Linked DNA regions of Homo sapiens: region 2 is linked to region 1. The links come from fine-mapping of genetic effects on gene expression. A gene starts in region 1. The other region holds a variant in brackets. All regions are shown on one strand. Distances are between the middles of the regions. Region 1 holds the start of PREP (prolyl endopeptidase). Region 2 overlaps PREP (prolyl endopeptidase).

Region 1 (4,255 bases):
TAATGCCTCCCCCTCCTGATGGAAATTAGTCCCATCCTCTTCTGTGTTCTCCTCTCACCCTAAATCCTCTTCTATCAGAGTGTGAGTCCCCTGTGACAGGCCTGAATTTCCTGATAGCAACTCTCTTAAGCAATGGTCGATGGTATTGCACAAGAAGTGTCATGGCTTCCAAATTTCTGCCCAAAAAGGCAGAACTCCACCAAAATGGTCTCAACGCTCCAAAGCTTTCAGCAGGAGAGTACTGAGCATATGGCTGAAGGTGCTCAAGTGAAAGAGACAGAGAGCTACCGCAATGCCCAGCTGATGCTGGGGAGAAACAAACCCATCCTAGAAATCAAAGGCTACCATTTAAGCAAATACCTAAGTCAAGCCTAGGGCTTAGTAACCAAAACCTTAATGCAAAAAAAAAGATACTCCACCGTAAGCTATCAAGGAGCCACACAACAAGATCCAGACTGGGCCAGAGCTACATTCCCTTGGCCACGAGGCTTAGAGTTAGCATGAGTTGCTTAATGAGAAGGAACTGGAGTGTATTAAAATCCACAGTATACCCTTCCGAGTTGTTTATAATCTTTTAGACGTCTTCATAAAATCCTCACTTAAACCTTTCATGAAATATCAAACATAAATAAACAAACTGTAGGATTTAGGCACCCACAGTGGTGAAAAACTAACAAGTAACTCTAAAAACAAACTTAAAACTGCACTTATCAAACCACAGAATGGGTAATTCTTTATATTCTGATCCTCAAGAACCAGAACCAAGAGAGTCACCTGGCTTCCCATTACTAGTCTGGAACACTGCAGAGCTAGACTGTCACATGAATGAATGAATGAATGACAACATTCCTACTGCAGAAGCAAGTAAGCCCTATGGTCAGTCCAAATATTTCTCATATGAGAAAAAAGGCCCATAACAGGTAAAAGAGCTGCTAAAAGTCACCTAACTAGTGAATGACAGAACCAGAACTAGCGCTCTGGTCTTTTCATTTAGTCCAGCCTCTTTCTCCATTCCAGCAGGATCACTTTACTCCCATATTCAAAGGAAACAACCTTTAAACCACAGGAATAGAGCTTCTTGAGCTGTTAGGGTAAATTTAATAAGCAAGCAGCTGAGCAGACTGAGAAAACATGGTTACCAGATGGCCACTGGTCAAAGAAACCATGAATGAATGCATCAGTGTCACTTGGAAGTCTTAATTTAAAACAGTATGTCCTTTACTCCGAAGCGTCAGCACCCTTTACCCCAATGTAGCACGTGCTTTAAAGTAAACACTTTCTGGCATAAATTGGGAAAGTAAACAGAAAAACATTAAAACTGTATCACACAAATACATACTTATTCTGATTATATTTTAAGTAATCTGAGAAATGTAGCTATTAGTAAGAGAATCACGGCCACAACATGTGGATGCAATCCAGTTCCTAAGTCGTCAAATTCACGTTTACACAAAAAAGGTGTCTGCCCAGAATTCCGCCTACTGGATCTCAACAGTTACCTTGAGTTCATCTGCAGCTTAGGCAAATGGTGGTCAACTCCGCCACTAGACAAAACTTACTCATTCTGAAAAAGGTCAACCCCTCTCCCTTCTAAGACCTCCTCTCACCCTCTCTCAACTCCTTTTCTTGTTTAAGAAAACATGGATCAGCACGGCCACACTATGGGGTCACTGCTCCGCCTTCCCCATTTCTGTCCGGGTCTCTGGCATCCCCAGGGCCCAGTGCGCCTCATCCGACCTGGGACAGGGTAGGCGCTCAACACACCTTTTAAAATCGAACGAATATGCTTCAACTCTAAGGACTTTAAAGTGTAAGTTTTAAAAGTTTGTTTTCGTTTTTAAATGTGACATCACACACACACACACACACACACACACACAAACACACACACACACCCCAGCGGACACTTTCTCCTACCACCATATTTAAGCAAGAGGCTTCGCCAGTCAAAAAAGCAGTGACACCGTCTGTCTTCCCACTCCCTGAAGACACCCATTCTACCCGGGCGTCTGCCCTTGACCCCATTGATTCTAGGAAGCGGCCGGGCGGCGCTGCCCACAGGCTCCGCCGCCAGCACTAGCAGAGTGACCGCCCGCGGGACCCCAGCGCTGCAGAGGAGCCCCGCGCCCCCGGCCCAATTCTCCCAAACAAAGGCCGAGGGGGAGGGGAGGGACGCGGGGGTCGAAGGCCTACAGGAAGAGGAGCTGCGGGTGCCACGGGTCAGGCAGGCTGGGCACCTTTGCCCGGGAGCCCTCTGGGCGGAGGCAGAGATACTTACGGCGGTCTCGTCGCGGTACACGTCGGGGTACTGAAGGGACAGCATGGCCGGGGACAGGCAGGGGGCAGCGTGGAGGGGCGCGGGCTCCGGGAGCGGACCTGAGCTAGCCGGGCTGGCCGCGAGGCGCGGCTGGGGCGCAGGCAGCTGCGGGGCGGCCGGCGGCAGCGGGCGGCCGGCTCACGGCCAGAGCTAGCACAAACGGACTGGCGGCGCGGCGGCGAGGACGTGCAGAAAGCAGGAAGCCGCTGTCTGCGAGGCCGGGAGCCCCTCCCCGGCGGGCGGGCCCAGCGGCGGCGGCGGCGGCAAGAGGGAGCGGGCGGCACCGAGCGTGCGCTAAGGCCGGCGCACAGCTCCCTCTGCAGGATCGCCGGCCGCGCCCGCGCCGCCCGGGCGCACGGAGGAGCACGCCGGCTACGCGCTCGCCCACGCCCGGCCGCCCGCCCGTCCTCTGCGCCGGGGACAAGTCCTTCCACCGAGGCCGGGTCCCCGCGCCTTCCCTAGCGCCCTGCCTCTCTTTGGCCGCGCTCGCAGGACCGCCTGTAGGAGAGTGAAGCCCCAGGGTTTCCTTGCTGATGGAGTCCCCCACCTTCCCCAGCCTTCCTGTTCCCGGGCTGGTTACGGCGGCGAAGGGAGACCTTGCCTCTCCCCAGCCTTGGAAGCAGAGGGCTGGAGGTGGCCTTATGTCCACTGCCTGCGACTCTGGACTTGAAGGGAAGAAGTAATCGATCATGATGACCGTGAAAGAAACACGTCTCCCTTCATCCCAGGACCCCTGGTGGACACTGGGTGGTTTAGCATCCGGACTATGGAGATGCTTTGGAGGTGTTGGCAGGACTACGGTTGAGCCCTTATTTGATATTTACCGATTGAGAAAGAACCAAGATTAAGAGGCCTGGAACTCATCAGGGGTATTTTATTTATCCTGCCTTTTCCTCATTTCCTCTCCTGCTGTCATGCTTGTTTATTGAGCACCTACTGTTTATGGGAAGAAAAGATAATAGACAAGATACTTGACCTCAAACCCATGAAAATTTAATAGTTACATGTCATCATCCTCGGGCCAGCAGCGGTATGTGTTCTGGTCTTGCTTCCTGGACCACCCAGAAGAGACTTTATAGCCCCAGCCATCAGGGGTATAGTGTGTGCCCAGTGTGTTTTCTATCCCTGGCTTCCAAAAAGTCCTGGAAGAAAGAATAGGTGTGACCAGAAAGTCCTTCACCTCCGGAATCTAAGTGGATATGGTAACTATTATAAACTTGTGTCCTCCGTCTCTTTTGTGATATGGTCCCAATTCCATGCCTCACCCTTAGTTCACCATTTCTGTTCATAGTGATGTGTCATAATCATTTTCTGCATCTGATCCCAGATACCCCCTCCTGGGGCAATCTGAGAATCCTCAATTCTGGGAGAACTCACGCTATTGATAACAAACTTTGTGCAAACACGGGGGCATAGCCCACTACAGCCCAGAAGTCCCAATTCCAGTTCCCACCTCGTGCCTTCCCTGGCTGTCACCTGACGCAGGGACTGGCAGGCATTGTCTCCTCCTTCTGCCACTGTGAGGGATTTTTTAAAGAGCAACCCAGGAGCACTTGACCCAGCAGACCCCCTAATGATAATATTAATGCTTATGGAGTGTTTTTTTCAGTGTATCAGGAAACTATCTAGAACTAATGTCCCTATTTTATAGTTAAGGAAAACGGGCTGACTTTTGCCCAGGACTTCACAAAAAGTGAAAAAGTAGAGCCAGGATTCCAACCTAGGTCTCTCCAATACCAATGCTCATTCTTAACCACTCTGACGGCCTTCCTACTCATAAATAAGTAGAGATACTCTAGAGTCTACAGGGCACCCATTTGCAGGGAAAACTTCAATTTAGCAGGACCTAAAGAAAATGTGGGAATTGTGGTACCCAAAGGACAAATCAAACCTAGGTATCATCCTCTCTTCCCTTTCAGTCAGCCGTTCTGGTGCCCA
Region 2 (4,255 bases), 89 kb before region 1:
CATCTCTTCACGTCGCTGCTACATTCCCAGTGTTTACAACAATGCTTGGCACATGGCAAATTCTCAATAAAAACAAACTGACGGGATGAATGAAAGGGGTTCTTCCCCATCCCACCTCCACCCATCAATGCTGACAGAGAATTTCTGATGAAGGCAAGGAAAGGCAGCCATACATAGACATAAATGAATTGTAAATCCAAACAGGTGAGCTTTAGGAATCCCAGAACACTCCTTCGTTGCTCTTATTTCTAAGGATTCTGAGCAATGGTGTCAAAGCATTTCCAAACACAATCAAATCTGCAGATTCTTAAACAACATGCCATCCACAGTTCAGATTATACTCTTTCTAAGTCTCTTCCAAATACTTAAATTAGCTATATACATATTAAATTCTGGAATTGAATTAGATATATCCTAGGCAAAACAGAAAACTTGAGGCTCCAGATGTAGGTAGCACATATATAATGATTTTTTACTTGCAGGCTAAATGATTTTCTATTTGAAAGCCAATTTCACAATCACCCTCTACCTGAACTGAGATCAAAAAAGCATGCTGTTTAAAGACATGCTTGTATGCATATATTAATGTTTATGGCTACTTCTATACAGGCATATGTATACAAATGTACACACATAGAGGCTAGGAGGAAACAAAGAGTCATCTATTACTTGATTCAGAACTAACTGGTAGATGCTCTTAAAGACAGAATTAAAATGGGCTGCATTTGTCAATTCAGCCTGAGAAGATGGTTTAAATTTTTCTTTTGAGACATGAACCAACATAAATGATGAAGCTTTCTCTAGTGTCTTAACAAAGCCACAGTGTTTTATATCAATTTCTGCATGAAGACCCAGAACTAACTACCTCAGAGTACTCAACTGTTTAATTGTGACAGCCTGATCAGAGAAGCCAGCACCACTTCTCAGGGCAATTCAACTTTGAAGCAATGAGTTTATGTACGAAGAACATGAGCACACATCCATGCTGTATTTTCAACTAACAGCTGAATGTCCTCTTTCCCCGTCTTCTGCTTTACACTGAGCTCCCAGGGGCAGGAGCAAGAAGACAAGCTTCTACAGGACAGTTGGCGTTTGGATGAATATTGAAAGATGTGTGGAATTTCAGAAAATAGTAAAGAAAAATGAGCAGAACCAGGATGGGTCATGGAGAAACGAGGCAGAGGTGAGTCTGAGTATGGTGGTCCGGGGCTACGGGGCGGCACTGGGGCGCGGCTGTATGAAGAAGAGCATCAAAAGTTGTGTGGAGGAGCATGTACCCAACACAGACAATGACAAGGAACTTGCATGTGTTTCTATGAGGTACCCTCACAATGCCTTCCACTTCACAATATTTTACTACCATTTTTATAACTATGACAACATTTCTGTCTATATCTTACATTGAGTCAGCACAGAGGGTGAACAGAGAATAATCCAGTCTACCTCCCTAAAACCAGGTCAAGGTACACTTAATCCAAATCAAAAGACTACACTTGTGGAGATGGAAATTTTTTCCTCCCTCCTTCACAGACCAATGACAGTAATGCCAGTAATGGTTTTTCCTTTAGGGAGATAATGGAATATCCCCAGCACTGGGTCTATTTTTACTCACCCATCACCCGTCGACCATCAGTGTAACTCCAGGCAAAGCAAGTGGAGGGGAGGGGAGGGAAGAAATCTGTGTAGCAGGTGGACAGCCCACACGAAGCTCCTATTGTCTCTCCTCTCCTTTTGTTCTAAAACAGTATGGCAGAAAGCCAAAAACAGTTGAGTTTTGCTGGCAAACTAAAATGTTGCCCCGGG[G/A]GTTTAAGAAAAGCAGGAAAAGATTACCCCCAACTCTTTTCTGCCAAGCCTTCTCTAGGCAGAGCAAATCTAAACAATGATCACAGTTGTGTTTCTAGATGGCCTGCTAATCCTATTAATTGTCTACCATCACCTATTAGGGAGGCAGAAATAGGGTGAGAGACACTGGGACAGATGTAACCCTGCAGGTAGAAAAATCACCTGCTTTTATGAGTACAGAAGTGGCCATCCAGACTCACCGCACAAGGGGCAGAGGTCTTGGGCTACAATTTCCAAAACAGATCTGTGAATATTCTTCTGAATTTGAGTTAGAAGGTGGCTGGTGCCAGCGTTGGCATGAATGCCAATCCCTGAATATGATCCTGAGAGAAGTCAACCAGAGATAAGATGACAAAAGCAAAAGAGTAAATAAAGTTTTATTTTATTTCTGAATATATTTCAAGTGGGGGTTCAAGCTGCCACATGGTGACCAACACTAAGACTTAAATAAAAATCTAAGTGTGTGTCTATACAGGCACACCTCATAGATACTGTAGCTCAGGTCCAGGCCACTATAATAGAGCAAGTATCAAAAAAGAAGAAAGTCACACCCACTTCTGGTTTCCCAGTACATATAAAAGCTGTTTACACTAGTGTACAAAGCAATAGCATTATGTCTTAAAAAAAAGTACCTACCTTAATTTAAAAACACTTTATTGCTATAAAATGCTAATGATCATCTGGGTCTTCAGTGAGTTGTAATCTTTTTTCTGGTGGAGGGGTATCTTGCCTCAATGTTGATGACTGCTGATGATTGGGATGGTGGTTGCTGAAGGATGGGGTTGCTGTGGCAATTTCTTAAAACAACAATGAAGTTTGCCCACTGGTTGACTCCTCCTTTCATGAAAGACTTCTGTAACATGCAATGCTGTTTGATAGCATTTTGCTCACAGTAGAATTTCTTTCAAAACTGGTGTGAAGCCTCTCAAGCCCTGCCACTGATTTATCAACAAAGTTTATGGAATATTCTAAATTCTTTGTTGTCATTTCAACAATGTTCACAGCATCTCCAGCAGGAATAGATTCCATCTCAAGAAACCAATTTCTTTGCTCATTCACAAGAAGGCAACTCCTCATCCATTCAAATTTGGTCATTAGATTGCAGCAATTCAGTCACATCTTCAGACTCTACTTCTAATTCTAGATCTCTTGCTATTTCCACATCTGCAGTGACTTCCCCCATAGAGGTCCTGAATCCCTCAAAGTCATTCCTGAAGGGTGGAATCAACCTCTTCCAAACTCATGTTAATGTTGATATTTTGACCTCCTCCCATGAATCATAAATGTTCCTCATGGCATCTAGAATGGTGAATCCTGTCCAGAAGGGTTTCAATTTACTCTGCCCAGATCCATCCATTTGTAAGGCAACTACAGCCTTACAAATGTAGTCAAAATTACTCCTTCATCCATGGGCTGCAGAATGGATATTGTGTTAGCAGGTATAAACACAACATTCATCTCTTTGTACAGCTCCATCAGAGCTCTTGGGTGACTAGGTGCATTGTCAATGAGCAGTAAATATTTGGAAAGGAATTGTTCTAAGCAGTAGGTCTCAACAGTGTGCTTAACAGATTCAGTAAACCACTGTAAGCAGATGTGCTGTCATCCAGGCCATTTCTAGAGCACACGCAGAGTGAATTTAGCACAATTCTTTTTTTGTTTGTTTTTTCGTTTCTGTTGAAGAGACAAAGTCTTGCTCTGTCGCCCAGGCTGGAGTGCACTGGTGCAATCATGGCTCACTGAAGCCTTGAACCCCTGAGCTCAAGTGATCCTCCTGTCTCAGCCTCTTGAGAAGCTAGAACTACAGGCACATGCCACCATGCTTGGCTAATTTTTAAATTTTTTGTAGATAAATTTTGTATGGGATTGCACCACATTGCCAGGCTCATCTTGAGCTCCTGGCCCGAGAGTTCCTACTGCCTTGGTCTCCTAAAGCATTGGGATGACAGGCATGAGTCACTGTGCCCAGCTAATTTAGCACAATTCTTAAGGGCCCTAGGATTTTAAGAATGGTAAATGTGCACTAGCTTCAACTTAAAATCACCAGCTGCATTAGCCCCTAATAGAATCAACCTGTCCTTTGGAACTTTGGAACTTTGAAACTTTGGAACTTTGAAGCCAGGCAGACTTCTCTTTAGCTATGAAAGTCCTAGATGACATCTTCTTCCAACAGAAGGCTGTTCTGCCTATATTGAAAATGTTTTAGTACAGCCACCTTCATCAATTATTTTAGCTAGATCTTCAGGATAACTTGCTGCAGCTTCTACATCAGCACTTGCTGCTTCACCTTGAACTTTTATGTTGTGCAGATGGCTTCGTTCCTTAAACTTCATGAACCAACCTCTGCTAGCTCCCTAATGTTCTGCAGCTTTCTCATGTCTTTTAGTCTTCACAGAACTGAAGAAAGTTAGGG

The links. PIP is the estimated chance that this variant, and not a neighbour inherited with it, causes the effect. A credible set is the group of variants that fine-mapping cannot tell apart.
Region 2: its variant is the best candidate, but not a certain one, in a credible set for the expression of PREP in whole blood (INTERVAL, PIP 0.67).

What each region holds. Positions count from the first base shown.
Region 1 is chr6:105,400,569-105,404,823 of GRCh38, forward strand. PREP (prolyl endopeptidase) reads right to left here and starts at 2,514. Exons shown (of 15, transcript NM_002726.5): 1 at 2,279-2,514. The coding sequence starts at 2,323. RefSeq lists a silencer at 2,222-2,791.
Region 2 is chr6:105,311,658-105,315,912 of GRCh38, forward strand. The region is part of intron 10 of PREP (prolyl endopeptidase); the gene reads right to left. Among named protein-coding and RNA genes, the nearest start is that of PREP-AS1, 35 kb to the left of the region's middle. The variant G/A (reference allele first, on the strand shown) is at 1,804.